2 linked regions of the Homo sapiens genome follow. The protein of the gene in region 2 interacts with the protein of the main gene of each other region in a pairwise test. Each region holds a gene or a part of one and is shown on either strand. Other genes may lie near its edges.

Region 1 (4,726 bases), on a different chromosome or scaffold from region 2:
CTGGGTTCAAGCCATTCTCCTGCCTCAACCTCCTGAGTAGCTGGGATTACAGGCACCTGCCACCACGCCCAGTTAATTTTTGTATTTTTAGTAGGGATGGGGCTTTACCATGTTGGCCAGGATGGTCTCGAACTCCTGTCCTCAGGTGATCTGCCCGCCTCGGCCTCCCAAAGTGCTGGGATCACAGCCGTGAGCACCGTGCCCAGCCAAGTGTGCATGTTTTCAATCTCTCCCTGTTCTGATGCTCAGAGTTGACAACTACACAAACACTGCAACTGGCTTTGCTTTTTGTCCTGATGGTATCTCACAAGGCTTCCCTAATGCAGGCAGTCTTGTTTTCTAGACAATCTACCAACCCTAGCCCACAACACCCTTCTGGTGCCATAATAAGGGAACACTTTGTAAATTAAATGTGAGTGAAATCAAAAAGGTTTCCTGCAAGGTTGTTTTCTGAGACTTGGGAAATAATAAAATTCTGTACTGGAAATTCACAAAGGAAAGGGCCTATTTTTCTAAAACTGTTCTAACAGCTGACAGCAATTTTAAGCCACAGCAGGTTGGTCCAGTTCCCTGTATAATATCATGAGAGATTCATACTCCTATGCGAAAACCTAGCAATGGTACTAAATCATTTATTTTGCATGAAACATCTTGAATTTTCAGAATATGAACTTTCAAAGACGGCCATTTATCAAAATGCTAAATGTCACTTTTTTGAAAATCATCCGAACAGTATGGTACTTGCTCAAAGTCCTCAGAAGTTAAGGTCAGCAGATCTAGCTCTCGAGCACCCCAGAGACTAGATAAGAGAGAAAGGAAAAATCAATCCATCAGAACTAGCTGTAATTCTTTCATAGATCCTGACCACTCCTTATTCTTCATTTTCATTTCACCACCACTTCTGTCTAACTTTATCTTTTCAAAGGGCTGGAAGGCTGCCATAGATCACAGCCCAGCAACTTTGGTTTTTAATTTTAAATGTCAGTCAGAAAAAGAAGAAAGGCAGTCGGCATTTTGAGTGAGAATGGAAGTGCATTTGTTCAAGAATGCTGACCTGGCTGTGCAGACTGCCTTCTGGTATTAGGGCTCTGGACATTCTCCTTGAATTCACTTTTCTATCCCATTTTTATTTCAATTCAGCAAACTCTTGGGCTATGGATATAAAGATAGAAAAGATACAATTTATTCTGACCAGATTAGTGTTCTTCCTCTAAGGACTCAGAGGAGTGTGATTAGGTCATAACCTCTTTTTGCCACGTACTCAAGATGATCATTTAAAATAGATGGAAGAAAATCAAATTCCTACTGCCAAATTAAATCTGAATACTAGCTCCTTACAAATGCCCTTCTGGCTGGGCGCAGTGGCTTATGCCTGTAATCCCAGCACTTTGGGAGGCTAAGGCAGGTGGCTCATTTGAGGTCAAGAGTTGGAGACCAGGCCAGGAGTAGTGGCTCACACCTGTAATCCCAGCACTTTGGGAGGCCAAGGCAGGTGGATCATCTGAGGTCAGGAGTTCGAAAACAGCCTGACCAACATGGTGAAACCCCATCTCCACTAAAAATACAAAAATTAGTCGGGCATGGTGGCACATGCCTGTAATCCCAACTACTGGGGAGGCTGAGGCAGGAGAATCACTTGAACCCAGGAGGCAGAGGTTACAGTGAGCCAAGATTTTACCACTGCACTCCAGCCCTGGCAACAGAGTGAGACTCTGTCTCAAAAAAAAAAAAAAGAAAAGAAAAGAAAATGCCCTTCTGTACAGATGCCAGTAACTACAAAATTGCTTCTTGATCCTGTTAAATAACATGTCCTTAGAACTATGTGAGGAAGATGATAAATTCCTATCAGCTTGAACCGAAGTTCCAGATTGGAAAGAAAACTATTCCAAACCCCATGATCATCAGTAAGTTTTATTCAACCATTAGACTCACGCTGCGTTGAAAGACAATCCCCCTCCACTCATTTCCACTGTAACTTCACTTTGGGGTTCTGCTGTTGGGCCTCTACTTGCCTCTTTCCTTCTTCTCCCTCCCCTTGATCCTGTCATCTCTGAAGTCCCTCTCTCTCTCCCAGTCATTGTCGGGCCACACCCTGGTCGGCTCTCTTTCTTGCCATCTCTTCTCCCGGCCCCTGTCATGGTCTCGATCCCTTGTCCTCGAGTCCCAGTGTCTTTCTCGGGATCGAGATCGCTCCCGCCTTTCCCGTTTTCCCTCTCTATAGAGGTCGTTTTTAACAACTGGCAAGTTAATAGGTTTTCGAAAAGGCCGGTCCCGTCCCCCAAATCTCAGTTGCCCAGACTCCTTTTTTCCCCCAAGACCGCCTCCAAGTCGCCGAGGGATCCACCCTTTGAGAGTCCTTTCCAGCTCGTAGTCCACAAATATCTCATGCTGGTCAATAACCAGGCCATCAGCATCTCGGTAAGCTTTGATCACGGCACGCTCCTCCTTGTATTCGATGAAGGCGTAGCCCTTTGAAAAACCTGTGACCAAGTCCCTGACCAGCCGAAGCCGCCGGATGTCACCATAGCGGGAAAAGACTTCCTTTAATTTGTCCTCCTTGGTCTGCAAGTTTAGTCTGGCCACAAACAGGGTGAGGAGGGGATCTCCTATGACACCTTTGTTGGGGACATATCGTGCCAGCATTGCCCTCCAGACCGCGCGGTCGTGTGGGTCTTCATCGGTGCCATCAATGCTGCCCGCTTTGAGTGGATCATACTCCTTGGCGATGGGCATCCAATCGTTCATGTTCTATGAATGATAAGAGCAAGCGTGGATGGAGCCTCTACTCTGAGCCACTCATTCAACCCTTACAACAATGCCATGAAAAGGATACTATCATTCACCTCTTCTTAAAAACAGGAAAGGAAGGGAACACCCACAGAGGCTAAGTCCTCCCTGCTAGTAAGTGGGGGAGACAGCACCAAAGCCAGGCAGTTGTGCTCCAGAGAAGCCCTTACCCACTCCTACAAATGCCCTCTCAGGAAGCAGAGGGCAGCGTGCTCGGGTTTCACCCATATATGCAGCATCTGGCTCAGCCACGGAAGGGCACTTACCAACTATGAACACATTACAATGTGGCAACGTGGATCAAAACCAGACTTCTCTTTCAGAACCTTTAAAATGATCATAGGAAAACTAGCCCAGGAACTGCTGGTGGAAAATGGCAATTTAAAAACTCTACTACCAAGAATATCAAATACCAACATAGAGAATCATATAATAACCCTCCACAAACTTCTCACCCGGCTCAACTAGAACCACCATGCACATGTGGCCAGAATAATCTGCCCCCAGATAATTCTGAAACAAATTCTAGATATCACATCATTCGTGTGGAAATTTTTTTACTATGCATCATTAAAAGATATAGACTTTTTTAAAACTACAAGAGAAAACAGGGATTTGGATGCACCATTCTGTAGTAAACAGACAACAAAGCTAAGGCTACAGTGACCCAGCAGCGGGAGCGGGTTATTTGTCTCAAAAGGAACATGGGATTTCTTCTCAGATCCCTAGCTGATAATCCGTTTAGACTGGGAGCATGAGAATTTACTGCAATGGTAATTTTTTGTCCAGCAAGCACACTGCAGTTGTCATGCCTTCTGATACATAGTTAATTCATGTGAATCTTTGCTGGAATAATAAAATGCTTACTAATATTTCAGACCCAGCTAATGCTTATGTGACCAACCTGCAACGCTGTAGAGCCAATGCTGAAATATGTTACTTAAAAACCTTGGCTGAGGCCAGACGCGGTGGCTCACGCCTGTAATCCCAGCACTTTGGGAGGCCGAGGCGGGCGGATCATGAGATCAGGAGATCGAGACCATCCTGGCTAACACGGTGAAACGCTCTCTCTACTAAAAAATACAAAAAAAATTAGCCGGGCATGATGGCGGGCGCCTGTAGTCCCAGCTACTCAGGAGGCTGAGGCAGGAGAATGACTTGAACCCGGGAGGCGGAGCTTGCAGTGAGCAGAGTTCGCGCCACTGCACTCCAGCCTGGGCGACAGAGCAAGACTCCATCTCAAAAAAAAAAAAAAAAACCTTGGCTGGCTGGGTGCAGTGACTAACGCCTATAATCCCAGCACTTTAGGAGGCTGAGGCAGGTGGATCACCTGAGGTCAGGAGTTCGAGACCAGCCTGACCAACATAGAGAAACCCCATCTCAACTAAAAATACAAAATTAGCGGGGCGTGGTTGTAGGCGCCTGTAATCCCAGGTACTCAAGAGGCTGAGGCAGGAGAATCACTTGAACTAGGTTGGTGGAGGTTGCGGTGAGCCGAGACCACGCCATTGCACTCCAGCCTGAGCAATAAGAGCAAAATTCCGTCTCCAAAAAAAAAAAAAAAAAAATTAGCCAGGCGAGGTAGGTGGGCGCCTTAATCCCAGCTACTCAGGAGGTTGAGGCAGGAGAGTGGCTTGAACCCAGGAGGCGAGGTTGCAGTGAGCCGAGATTACACCACTGCACTCCAGCCTGGGCAACAAAGCGAGGCTCTGTCTCAAAAAAAAAAATAAAAAATAAAAACCAAACCAGGTCTTTCCTGGAAGAAGTCCCAAAAGTTAAGAAAAAAAACAAAACAAAACTGGCGAGCGCGGTAGCTCACGCCTGTAATCTCAGCACTTTGGGAGGCCAAGGTGGGCAGATCACGAGGTCAGGAGTTCAAGACCAGTCTGGCCAAGGAGTTTGAGACCAGTCTGGCCAATATGGTGAAACCCCGTCTCTA
Region 2 (5,077 bases):
ATGCCACTGGGAAAAATTTCACAGAATCAGAAATATGGCTTCCCTTTTTCCCTACCTAAAACCTGTTTGAATCCCTATGCCTTTCAAGTGGCAAAAAGTAGACTGTTGATGGTTAAATAGAGAAAAAAACAAAACAAAACAAAAAAACCTAAGGTAAATGTCAATGAGCAGCCTAAGCTATCAGAGTAAAGGAATTAATGCTTCTTTGAAAGCTTCTCTCAAGCTAAAATGTGTCTCTTTCCTATTGGGTCTAGAATACTTTCAAACCTGTTTTTTAACTACCGTGCTTGTATTTCTCCCATACATTTTCCCCAGAACATGCGAGTGTGTGCGCGCACGCATGCACGCGTGTGTGTGTATAATGTAACAAAAAGGAGGAAGATCTTTTTGCAGCCCTACATAAAAATGTCTTTACGTACTATCCATATCTATATTACAGGAAGAAAAGCCTGAAAACAAGTATCAAGTTCTTGCATCATGATAAAGTCGTTTCCAAGCTTTCAAATTTTTTTTTTTTTTTTTAGACAGACTCTCATTCTTGTCGCTCAGGCTGAAGTGCAGTGGTGTGATCTCGGCTCACTGCAACCTCTGCCTCCCGGGTTCAAACGATTCTCCTGCCTCAGCCTCCCGAGTAGCTGGGATTACAGGCGCCCGCCACCACGCCCAGCTAATTTTTGTATTTTTAGAAAAGATGGGGTTTCGCCATGTTGGCCAGGCTGGTCTTCAACTCCTGACCTCAGGTGATCTGTCCATCCTGGCCTCCCAAAGTGCTGGGATTACAGGCGTGAGCCACCACACCTGGCCGCTTTCAAATTTTAAGAAATGACATGCTATATATCAAAACATAAAAGAGAATATTCAGGAAAAAAAAAACACCTAAGAAATAACACTGGAAATTAAATAATGTTTTTGGGTGCAGGTCTCAAAGTACTGCATTTAAGATATTCACTGTTTAGGTGACAAGTATCTCTTCAAGGGGTAGTGGGCTAGAATACAGATTTTACACTGTATTTAAAGAAAACATTCCAAAGGATGAAAGACAAAAATCCAACAAATAAATACACATTACTTTTTTTTTTTTTTTTTGCAACGGAGTTTCGCTCTTGTTGCCCAGGCTAGAGTGCAATGGCGCAATCTCAGCTCACTGCAACCTCTGCATCCTGGATTCAAGCGATTCTCCTGCCTCAGCCTCCCAAGTAGCTGGGATTATAGGCGCCCGCCACCACGCCTGGCTAATTTTTTGTATTTTTAATAGAGATGGGGTTTCATCATGTTGGCCAAGCTGGTCTCAAACTCCTGACCTCAGATGATCCACCTGCCTCAGCCTCCCAAAGTGCTGGGATTACAGGTGTGAGCCACCGCACCCTGCCCACATAACTTCTTTTTTGTCAGTCACTTTGATACGCATCCTATCCTGACAAAAAAAATCTTGAAGTTCACAAATTGAAATCTTTTTGAATGCCTCAAGGGTGGCATTTAGAAGGTCTTTAGCAGGTTTAATTTCTTCATAAAAATTCTCCTTTAATTCTCTGTAAAGCTCTTTGTTTTCATTTTTCCAAATCAAGATGACTGCCAAGTACTACTCACTCGGTAATAAGAGTTTTTCTCAACAACTGTAAACTATCTTTGGTAACTTTGCTAAGTACTTCTTATGGTGACAATCATTGATAACTTTGATTGCAGTTTTCTAACCTGGAATGTTGCAGAAAATTGCACACTGAAAATATTACTCACTGTTCGATCCTCCAAGTACATAGTTTTTGATAAAAAGTCAATGCCAATTGTTGCCTGTAAAACAAAACAAAGAAGTTAACAAATAATAAGTTTAATGGTGGCCAGCAGTTTAGGATTCAAATGGGATTCATGATTGTGGAAGAAATAATGAATAAACAAATCAATACAACATAGTCAATTAAGGACAATTAAGGACAAACAAAATTTCCAGTGATAATGATTTTCATGTATTCAGCACTTGCTTCATATCAGAGATTGTTTTAAGCCTTTTACATGATCATCTCTAATCTTTATACATTCCTGCCAGGTAGCTTATTCTCATCCCTACTTTTCTCATTTTACAAATAACAAGACAATGGCAACTTTGGTTTAAATATTTGTATTTGAACTTTAGTTTGAGTATCTGATTGTTCTCCACTCAGAATGGTAAGTATCTGCCCCAAGAGCAGTTTTATAAAATACTGTTGATATATTGTCAACTGTCCTAATGCCATAGACAGCCAGAGACTCACAAACATCATAACTTTCCATAAGAGACATGATTTTTCCAATATAAAATAAAAGTCATTAGGTAAGGAAAACAAGTTTTCCTCTGTACCACACAATGATAGCTTCCTTCTGTGGTGAAAACAAATGTAAAGTTCTATTGCCTGGCTGCTGTTTTCCCTATCAAGAGAAAATGGTGAAATAATAAGAGAATAGAAAGAAGGCAGACTACAAAAAAGAAAGGAAAAAAAGTATACAAGTTAAAAAACAGTCCAGTATTAATTAGGGGAGATAAATAAAAAGAATGGAAGAAAGACAGACTCCAGAAAGAGGATGTTGATATGGACTCTATTTTAGAAGTTTTACCACCTCATTAATGTTTGTGTGCACATATACTATGTATATATGTGCGTGTACATACATACTTTTTCCCTAAATATCTTTGTGCCATATTCCTTAAAACAGAAACTGAGTCTGTGCATTTTAAAATATGAGTCACTAAGAATTTTAAGTTCCTAAAAAACAATCAAAAACTAGATCAGAAAAGTGGTCCATCAGTTGGGGATTTTATTTCTGTTAGCAGAAAAATAGAATTTTGTGTGTGTCATAGTTGAGTTCTCACGAGATCTGATGGTTTTATAAAAGGATTTCCCCTCTCTTTGCTCTGTGCTTCTCCTTGTTGCTGCCATGTGAAGAAGGACATGTTTGCTTCCCCTTCTGCCATGATTGTAAGTTTCCTGAGGCCTCCCCAGCCATGTGGAACTTGAGTCTATTAAACCTCTTTCCTTTATAAATTACCCAGTCTTGGGTTATCTCTTTATTAGCAGCATGAGAACAAACTAATACATGTGTCTCCTTTAATTTCTCCCAGCAGTGTTTTGTATAGTCTTATGCTGTTTGTTAAATTTGTTCCTAAGTATTTTATTCTTTTCTGATGCTTCCGTAAATAAAATTCAAATATATATGTGTGTGTGTATATATATATATATATATATATATATATATATATATATTTTTTTTTTTTTTTTTTTTTTTTGAGACAGTCTCACACTCTTGCCCAAGCTGGTATATAGGGGTGTGATTTTGTCTCAGTGCAGCCTCAACCTCCTGGCTCAAGCAATCCTCTCGAGTAGCTGGGACTACAGGTGCATGCCACCATGCCCCACTAATTTCTGTATTTTTTTATAGAGACAGGGTTTTGCCATGTTGTCCAGGCTAGTCTGGAACCCCTAGGTTCAAGAGATCTTCCCCACTTGGCCTTCCAACACGCTGGGACTATAGGCATGAGCCACTACACCCTGCCTAAAGATAATATCTTTATATGAAAAATCAATGCAATGTTGATAAGTCTTTACATGTTTTTACATATATTCAAGAATGAAAGCTACAGTAAATTACATAAATTGATTATCTACTAAGTGCCGATTTATACACATTGCCCCATTTAGTTCTCATTTATTCGTTCATCGATTATTTATTTATTTATTTATTTAGAGACAGAGTCTCGCTCAGTCGCCCAGGCTGGAGTGCAGTGGCGTGATCTCGGCTCACCGCAATTTCTGCCTCCTGGGTTCAAGCAATTTTAGTGCCTCAGCCTCTCAAGTAGCTGGGATTACAGGCATTCACCACCAAGCCCAGCTACTTTTTGTATTTTTAGTAGAGATGGGGTTTTGTCATGTTGGACAGGCTGGTCTCGAACTCCTGGCCTCAAGTGATTCCCCCCGACCTCGGCCTCCCAAAGTGCCAGGATTATAGGCATGAGCCAATGTGCCCAGCTTGCTCATCAAATATTTATTAAGCACGTACTTGCAAGTACTGTGTAAGGTACTAGAGTGATGAACAAACATGCAGTTAGTCTCTACCCAAATTGGACGGAACACATTTAAAAATCATGTACACCTGTCCACATTCATCAGGAATATTTATTGAACTCTATTCCTTCCAAATACTGGGGGGGAAAAAAAGAAAGATTTATTTTACTTATTTTATTTTATTTTATTTATTTATTTTGAGAGACAGAGTCTTGCTCTGTCACCCAGGCTGGAGTGCAGTGGGGTGATCTTGGCTCACTGCAACCTCCGCCTCCTAGGTTCAAGCAATTGTCCTGCCTCAGCTTCCCAAGCAGCTGAGACTACAGGTGTGCACCACCACACTCAGTTAATTTTTGTATTTTTTAGTAGAGACGGGGTTTCACTATATGTTGGCCAGGCTGGTCTCGAACTCCTGACCTCAAGTGATCTGCCCACCTCGGCCTCCCAAAGTGCTGGGATTACAGCCATGAGCCACTGCGCCTGGCCGAAAGAAATATTTATTGATTGCCTACTAGGCACCATCATTAGCAGCTGAGAATCCTGTGGTAAAAGAATAAAAAGCAGACAAGAATCTATGCCCTTGCAAAGGTTACAGTCTGCTAAGACAAACAATAAGCTAATTAAGTAAAATAGTATATTAGAGAGTAGTATGAGAGAAAAAAACCAGGAAAAGGACAATAAAAGATATTATGGTACGATGTCAATATTTTTAGATAAGATACTCAATAAAGGCTAAGAAAATGACTCTCACCACTCCTACCCACATATCTATATACTGTAAACCAGTACCCTGCATTTCAATATATAAGATTTTTTTTAGTTACATAAATAAAACACCACAAACTTTATGTATGTCAATTCCTGTACAGCAAATATTTCTAACAAATAGGTTTTTAAAGAAAAAATTGAACTGTTTCTCAAATTCCATATAAACGCTTATGCATTTCTCATTCACTTTGCCTTAATATGGGATTACTGCATATAGGCTGCAGAAAGTTCACACTCAAGAACAGCTATGTAAAGCATGTAAAACAACAGCAATTCAA

Evidence for each region.
Region 1: the proteins of RAB6A (region 2) and SNRNP35 interact in binary tests that used the Homo sapiens proteins (3 or more experiments, as listed by UniProt).

What each region holds. Positions count from the first base shown.
Region 1 is NC_000012.12:123,463,560-123,468,285, reverse strand, and holds the end of SNRNP35 (U11/U12 small nuclear ribonucleoprotein 35 kDa protein), read right to left. Parts: intron 2,749-4,726; coding exon of another isoform or gene 2,746-2,748; coding exon 2,005-2,745; 3' UTR 1,350-2,004; downstream 1-1,349.
Region 2 is NC_000011.10:73,719,112-73,724,188, forward strand, and holds part of RAB6A (ras-related protein Rab-6A), read right to left. Parts: intron 1,789-5,077; coding exon 1,735-1,788; intron 1-1,734. UniProt on the Homo sapiens protein: The small GTPases Rab are key regulators of intracellular membrane trafficking, from the formation of transport vesicles to their fusion with membranes.